Homo sapiens: one gene and its partner. The protein of the gene in region 2 purifies or fractionates together with the protein of the main gene of each other region. This does not show direct contact. Each region holds a gene or a part of one and is shown on either strand. Other genes may lie near its edges.

The links. Proteins that work in one complex are often made in the same cells at the same time.
Region 1: the proteins of FCRL5 (region 2) and ME1 purify together in Homo sapiens (affinity purification with mass spectrometry; one large-scale study listed by BioGRID and IntAct). This does not show direct contact.

The regions. Positions count from the first base shown.
Region 1 is NC_000006.12:83,218,052-83,221,551, reverse strand, and holds part of ME1 (NADP-dependent malic enzyme), read left to right. Parts: intron 1-3,500. UniProt on the Homo sapiens protein: Catalyzes the oxidative decarboxylation of (S)-malate in the presence of NADP(+) and divalent metal ions, and decarboxylation of oxaloacetate.
Region 2 is NC_000001.11:157,528,271-157,532,125, reverse strand, and holds part of FCRL5 (Fc receptor-like protein 5 isoform 1 precursor), read left to right. Parts: exon of another isoform or gene 1-162; intron 163-3,855. UniProt on the Homo sapiens protein: Plays an important role in B-cell response to antigen that acts both as a negative or positive coreceptor.

The DNA of each region.
Region 1 (3,500 bases), on a different chromosome or scaffold from region 2:
ATTTTTATTAGTGATACCCCCTTTCCAAGCAGGCAGCAAAGCTTAGAAGCTTGACATTCTTTTCATTCTCCCTCATCCCATAGCCTTCAAACACACCATGCATATGTATGCCTGTGTAACTGCTTTATCTCTTATCCTGTCTGGAAAGACCTGAGAATTATTCTCCAATGATCTAAGCTTCTCCTTTAGGGTACTGCTTAAATACCACCACATCCTGGAATCTTTTTGTGACAAGTCTAGCTCATCTTGATCTTTCTCCGTAGCCATGACTGTCTTTATTACACACTTTGACATTTAATTTTATTTCTGGTTATGATACACTCCTGAGAGCTTCCTATTGTAAAAGATTAGGTGTTGCCTTTATAACTAAATTGTAGATTATCTTTTTTTTTTGAGACGGAGTCTCGCTCTGTTGCCAAGCTGGAGTGTAGTGGTGTGATCTTGGCCCACTGCAACCTCCAACTCCCTGGTTCAAGCAATACTCCTGCCTCAGCCTCCCAAGTATCTGGGATTACAGGCACAATGCCAATACGCCCAGCTAATTTTTGTATTTTTAGTAGAGACGGGGTTTCACCATGTTGGCCAGACTGGTCTCGATCTCTTGACCTTGTGATCAGCCTGACTCGGCCTCCCAAAGTGCTGGGATTATAGGCATGAGCCACCGCGCCTGGCCTGTAGATTATCTTTTTTAAAGACAGAGAGTCTTCCATATACTTCTTTTAAAACTTCAGTAGTATCTAGCACCATGCTAGGCACAAAGCAGAAAATTAGTAAATACTTTTTGAATAGGATTAAATAGAATGAGTCATGTATCTTAGCAAGAGGAATAAATACAATACCACAAACGTTCACTACCAGATGGCCCCAAAAAGAAGAAAAGTACTTCTTGTCTAGATTATATTTTGTAGTTAACAAAAGTAACATATAGGAGATATTTCTGAATATTTTGTTTTGCAACCACAAATTTAATAACTGTTAGGATTATTGTCAAAATACTAGTTGAATCTCTTATGGAACTAGAAATGTCATGGGTTAGCACCAATCTCAAAGAATATTTCTGGACATTTTTATATCATGAAGAGATTTTTGGCTTTCCTGGCACTATAGACAGTCTTCTGGACCTCTGGTGATCAGCCCTCCTGGCCCTGTGTGGTCTGTAGTGTATCCTGGGAATAGACTCCTCACATCCTGTTCACACCTGGGAGACAAATCTCAGCCTCCTATCTTCACACCACTTCTCCTGAATCACAGGCTGGTGTCTTCTCATCTGCCTTGCTCCACTCCTTTCTGATATCTGCTCAGAGGACCCTTTAGATAATCATCATGGACAGTCACACATGGAGAGTAAGGATTCAGAATGATTCTTCTTTACTCAGCTATCCTGTGACTGTCTCCAATCTCTTTAAAATGACATTTGTGTGACATCCTAGAGAAGAAACAATGAAATTGAATGCCAGCAGTGTCCTGGTGTTTATAGGTGGAATACACATATTATGTCATATAAATAGTTGAAAAAACTTGAAGTTGATTCGTTATAGAACTTGCCCCCAAATCAAATAGCTAACAATCTATACACTGTAGAGCCAGATCTGACACCAGAAGCTATTTTGCTTCCATTTGGCCATGTGGGCTGCCTATTGGTTCTTTTTTAAAACAAAATAGCTGGCCAGATGCAGTGGCTCACGTCTGTAATCCCAACACTTTGGAAAGCTGAGGTAGGTGGATCGCTTGAGCTCAGGAGTTTGAGACCAGCCTGGCCAACATGGTGAAACCCTATCTCTGCTAAAAATACAAAAAAAAAAAAAAAAAAATTAGTTGGGCATGATGGCACACAGCTGTTGTCTCAGCTACTCGGGAGTCTGAGGCGGCAGAATCACCCAAGCTAAGGGAGATTGCCTACACTCCAGCGTAGGCAATCTGAGTGAGACCCTGTTTCACATACATACATACATACATACATAAAACAAAATAGCTAAGTTTAATTGAATACTTTTCTGACAGACACTGTCTGTGGTAAATTGTTTGCTGGCATTTATTTCATTCAATCCTTATGAATTAGGAAGTATTATTAGTCCTGTATTACTGATGAGAAAACTGAGGTCTAAAAAGGTTAATTAATTTGCCCAAATACAAAACAGACAGTAATTGATGGAATTAGAATTCAAACATAGGTCTACCTCACACCAGAGCCTGAGCCTTCAACCACCATGCTCTGACATCTTTTTAACATTGTGCTATTCATTTTGTTCTATCCAATTAAATACCAATACCTGACACCCAGAAAAGTTTTTGCTTTAACATCTAAGAAATTATTATTTAAATCTGCCACATCTCCTTTGCAGAACAACAAGAATTAATAAAGTTTTTTAAAAGTTTCAATTCAGTGGAGCAATTAACATAAAATGGTTTTATTTTGCCCCAGTCATTGTTTTAAATCATTCTCCACCAGCTCTCCCTCTTGTTTCTCTTAGTGCCATTTCGGTAAGAGCCCATAACTTTCAGTTCACTCATTCTTTTAATATTCTTTTAATTAAATACCTAACATATGCTAGGCATTATTCTGAGTGCTGAGAATACATCAGTGAACAACAATTAAACATCTGTGCAGTTCAAAATGTTATATCCAATTCAAATGTCATGTCCTCTCCCTGCAGTAGGAGAGGCCTGCAGTAGCAGTTAGAGAAAACCCATCTGTTCTTTTACTCTTTCTCTGAAGCTAGCACTTTGAGGAATTTGGGGGGAAATGTTTGGCTCGACTCTGAGAAACCTCCTCCCTCTTTTTGTTAAAGACTACTTCTTCAAATACGTTGGAGAAAAGAAGGAAGGGCATGGAAAAGGGCAAACATCTCTTTTATTAACTCGATTATTAACTCCACTAATTCTCTCTGGCAGGGTCCAAATCTGGCCCTCTGATGTAGGATGTCTGGCTTCAGCCTAGCTTCCTTACACTTCTTCAGGTCCCCAGGGATGCAGAGGCCTCCTCTGCTATGGCCGCTTGACCTTGGAAACTCATGTACCCATACCAGATCCACTGATGGGAATGTATACAGCTTACAGCCACCCTGTCTGTCTGGCTCTCCCTTTCCCATTCTCTTCTCTGCTTAAGTACACATACCTATAACTGCTCACGCTGAGGAGGGGAAAAGAATGCCCCCCAGTCTTTCCTTGAGGACACCATAAGCCTTTAAGAAGGAGTAGCATGCACCAAGAAGAGGGGAGGAAAAAGCCACTACATTACCCAGTAGGCCAAACCATGGTTCCAGCAAATTTCCCTGCCTCTCACTAGCTCAGCCTTCTGGAAGGGGGTGGCTGTGGTTTGTGGGGTTGGCAGGGCTGATTCTACTTTCTGAGGTAGATGGCAAGCCCCACTTGTTTGGTGACTTCCTGATAGTGTGGAATAGTTAACGTATCTTTGTCCTGAAGTTTGGGACCCTGATGACCAATTCTAGGGCAAACATCCTGTTACAAAGGCAAGAAATTAATGAGTTAAATGATGAGTT
Region 2 (3,855 bases):
CCTTTTCGTCTTAATTGACACATTGTAATTGTATATATTTATGGAAGCACAGTTTGATATTTTGATATACATACATGGTATATAACGATCAAATTAGGATATTTAATGTACCCATCATCTCATGCATTTATCATTTCTTTGGAATAAAAACATTCAAAAGCCTCTCTTCTAGCTTTTTTGTAATATATTATAACTGACCATTAACCATCATCACCAATAGAACAGAATTTATTCCTCCTGTCAAATTATAACTTTATACCCATTGACCAACTTCTCCCTATCCTCCTCTTCCCTCTCCCCTCCCCAGTCTCTGATAACCACAGTTCTATTCTCTGCTTCTATAGTATCAACTTTGTATTTTTTTAGATTCAAAATATGAGTGAAATCATGCAGTATCAGTCTCTCTGTGCCTGGATAATTTCATTAAATATGATATCCTCCAGGTCTTTTTATATTGCTGCAAATCACAGGATTTCATTATTTTTTATGGCTGAATACTATTCCATTGTGCATATATTCCACATTTTATTTATCTATTCATCTGCTGGGGGACACTTAGATTGCTTCTATATCTTGGCTATTGTGAACAGGGCTGCAATAAACTTGAGAGTGCAGATATCTCTTTAACATAGCGACTTTATTTCCTTTGAATATCCACCCAGCAGTGAAATTGATAGATAATATGGTAGCTCTATTTTTATTTTATTGAGAAACTTCCATGCTGTTTCTTGTGGTGGCTGTACTAATTTACAATGCCACCAGCAATGTAAGGGTTCCTTCCTCTCCACAACTTAACCAGCACTTGTTTTCTTCTGACTTTTTGATAACAGTCATTCTAACTGGAGTGAGGTTATACTTCATTGGCGTTTTAATTGTATTTCCCCAATAATTAGTGATATTGACCATTTTTTTCATGTACCTGTTGTCCATTTTTATGTCTTCTTTAGAGAAATGTCTGTTAAAGTCTTTTGCCCATTTTTTAATCAGCTTGTTTGGTTTTTTCCTGTTAAGCTCTTTATATATTCTGGATGTTAACACCTTGTCAGACATAAACTTTGCAAATATTTTCTCCCATTCTATAAGTTGTCTTTTTACTCTGTTAATTGTTTCCTTTGCTGTGCAAATTCTTTTCAGCTTGATGTAATCCCATTTGTCTAATATTTGCTTTTGTTGCCTGTACTTTTGTATTTTAAAAGGTCCAGTCTTTTAGAAGAACAATTTGACATTATATGTTATTACTTAAAATGTTTGTATACTTCATCCCAGAAATTCCATGTCTAAGAATTTATCCTAAGAAATGCATGTGTAAATATACAAAAATATATCTACAGAATTACTTAATGCAGCATCACTTGACATTTAAGAAACAACAACATCCCAAACATCCATTAATGGGAAAATGCTTAAATGTATTATAGCATATCTATACAATGGAATACTTTGTCATTGTTAAGAATAATCAGGTAAGTGGGGCATGGTGGCTCTCGCCTGTAATCCCAGCACTTTGGGAGGCCGAGGCGGGCAGATCACCTGAGGTTGGGAGTTCAAGACCAGCCTGATGGAGAAACCCTGTCTCTACTGAAAATACAAAATTAGCCGGGTATGGTCGTGCATGCCTGTAATCCCAGCTATTCAGGAGGCTGAGGCAGGAGAATCGCTTCAACCCGGATGGCGGAGGTTGTGCTGAGCCAAGATCGCGCCATTGCACTCCAGCCTGGGCAACAAGAGTGAAACTCTGACTCAAAATAAAATAAAATAAAATCAGGTAATATATTTCCAAAATTATCAAGTTGTAAATGTAAAAGTTATACTTTATTGTGTGTAAATTATGCTTTAATAAAGATGAGTTTTAAAAGTTAGTGATGTAGATTTTTAAGTAATACCACAGAAAGATGCCCATAATATATAGCTAAGGGGAAAAAGCAGGTTGTAGACCAGTATGTTATTGTGATCCCATGCACGTGTGTGATTTTAATGTATTTATTTATGTGTCTATGAGTGTACTTATACATAGAAAAGATCTAGAAAGTGTCACCAAATACTCAACAGAAGTAATTTCTGAAAAAATAAAGAAAATGGTAAAACTTTTTATTTTTACTTAGATAATTCTGTAAAGTTTGATTTTATTAAATGAATAGCTGGGTTTTTCATTTTTAAAAAAATTTCAGTAGTTTTGGGGACCAGGTGGTGTTTGGTTACATGAGTAACTTCTTTAGTAGTAATTTCCGAGATTTTGGTGCACTCGTTGCCAGAGCAGTGTACACTGAACCCAGTGTGTAGTACTTTATCCATCACCCCACTCTCACTCTTCCACTGAATCCCCAGAATCTATTATATTATGCTTAGGCCTTTGCGTCCTCATAGCTTAGCTCCCACTGATAAGTGAGAACATACAATGTTTGGTTTTCCATTCCTGAGTTACTTAGAATAATGGTCTCCAACTCCATCTAGGTTGCTGTGAATGCCATTATTTTGTTCCTTTTTATGGCTGAGTAGTATTCCATAGTGTACACACACACACACACACACATGCGTATGTATCACATTTTCTTTATCCACCCCTTAATTGATGGGCATTTGGGCTGGTTCCATAGTTTTGCAATCATGAGTTGTGCTGCTATAAACACGTTTGTGCAAGTGTCTTTTTCATATAATGACTTCTTTTCCTCTGGGTAGATACCCAGTAGTGGGATTGCTGGATGAAATGGTAGTTCTACTTTTAGTTCTTTAAGGAATCTCCATACTGTTTTCATAGTGGTTGTAATAGTTTACATTCCCACCAGCAGTGTAAAACTGTTCCCTTTACACCACATTCATGCCAACATCTATTATTTTTTGTTTTTTTAATTATGACCATTCTTGCAGGAGTAAGGTGGTATCGCATTGTGGTTTTGATTTGAATTTCCTTGATAGTGATGAGCACGTTTACATGTTTGCTGGCAATTTGTGTATCTTCTTTTGAAAATATTCTATTCATGTCCTTTGCCCACTTTTTGATGTGATTGTTTTTTCCTGATGATTTGTTTGAGTACTTTGTTGATTCTGGATACTGGTCCCATGTCAGATGCATAGTCTGTGAATATTTTCTCCCACTCTGTGGGTTGTCTGTTTACTCTGCTGATTATTTCTTTTGCTGTGCAGAAGCTTTTAAATTTAATTCAGACCCATCTATTTATTATTGTTTTTGTTGCATTTGCTTTGGGTTCTTGGTCATGAACTCTGCCTAAGCCAACCAATGTCTAGAAGAGTTTTTTAAAGTATATTCCAGGGTTTATATGGTTTTAGGTCTCAGATTTATGTCTTTGATCCATCTTGAGTTGATTTTTGTGTAAGGTGAGAGATGAGGATCCAGTTTCATTCTTCTACATGTGGCTTGTCAATGATGCCAGCACCATTTGTTGCATAGGGTGTTCTTTCCTCACTTTACATTTTTGTTTCCTTTATCAAAGATCAGTTGGCTGTAAGTATTTGGCTTTATTTCTGTGTTCTCTCCTTCCATTGGTCTACCTGTCTGTTTTTATACCAGTACCATGCTGTTCTGGTAACTATAGCCTTGTAGTATCGTTCAAAGTCAGGTAATGTGATGCCTCCAGATTTGTTCTTTTTGCTTAGTCTTGCTTTGGCTATGTAGGCTCTTTTTTTTGTTCCATATGAATATTAGGATTGTTTTTTCTAGTTCTGTGAAGAATTATGGTGGTATTTTGATGGGAATTGCATTGAAGTTATAGATTGCTTTTGGTAGATGGCCATTTTCACAATATTGATTCTACCCATCCATGAGAATGGGATGTGTTTCCATTTGATTGTGTCATCTGCGATTTCTTACACCAGTGTTTTGTAGTTTTTCTTATAGAT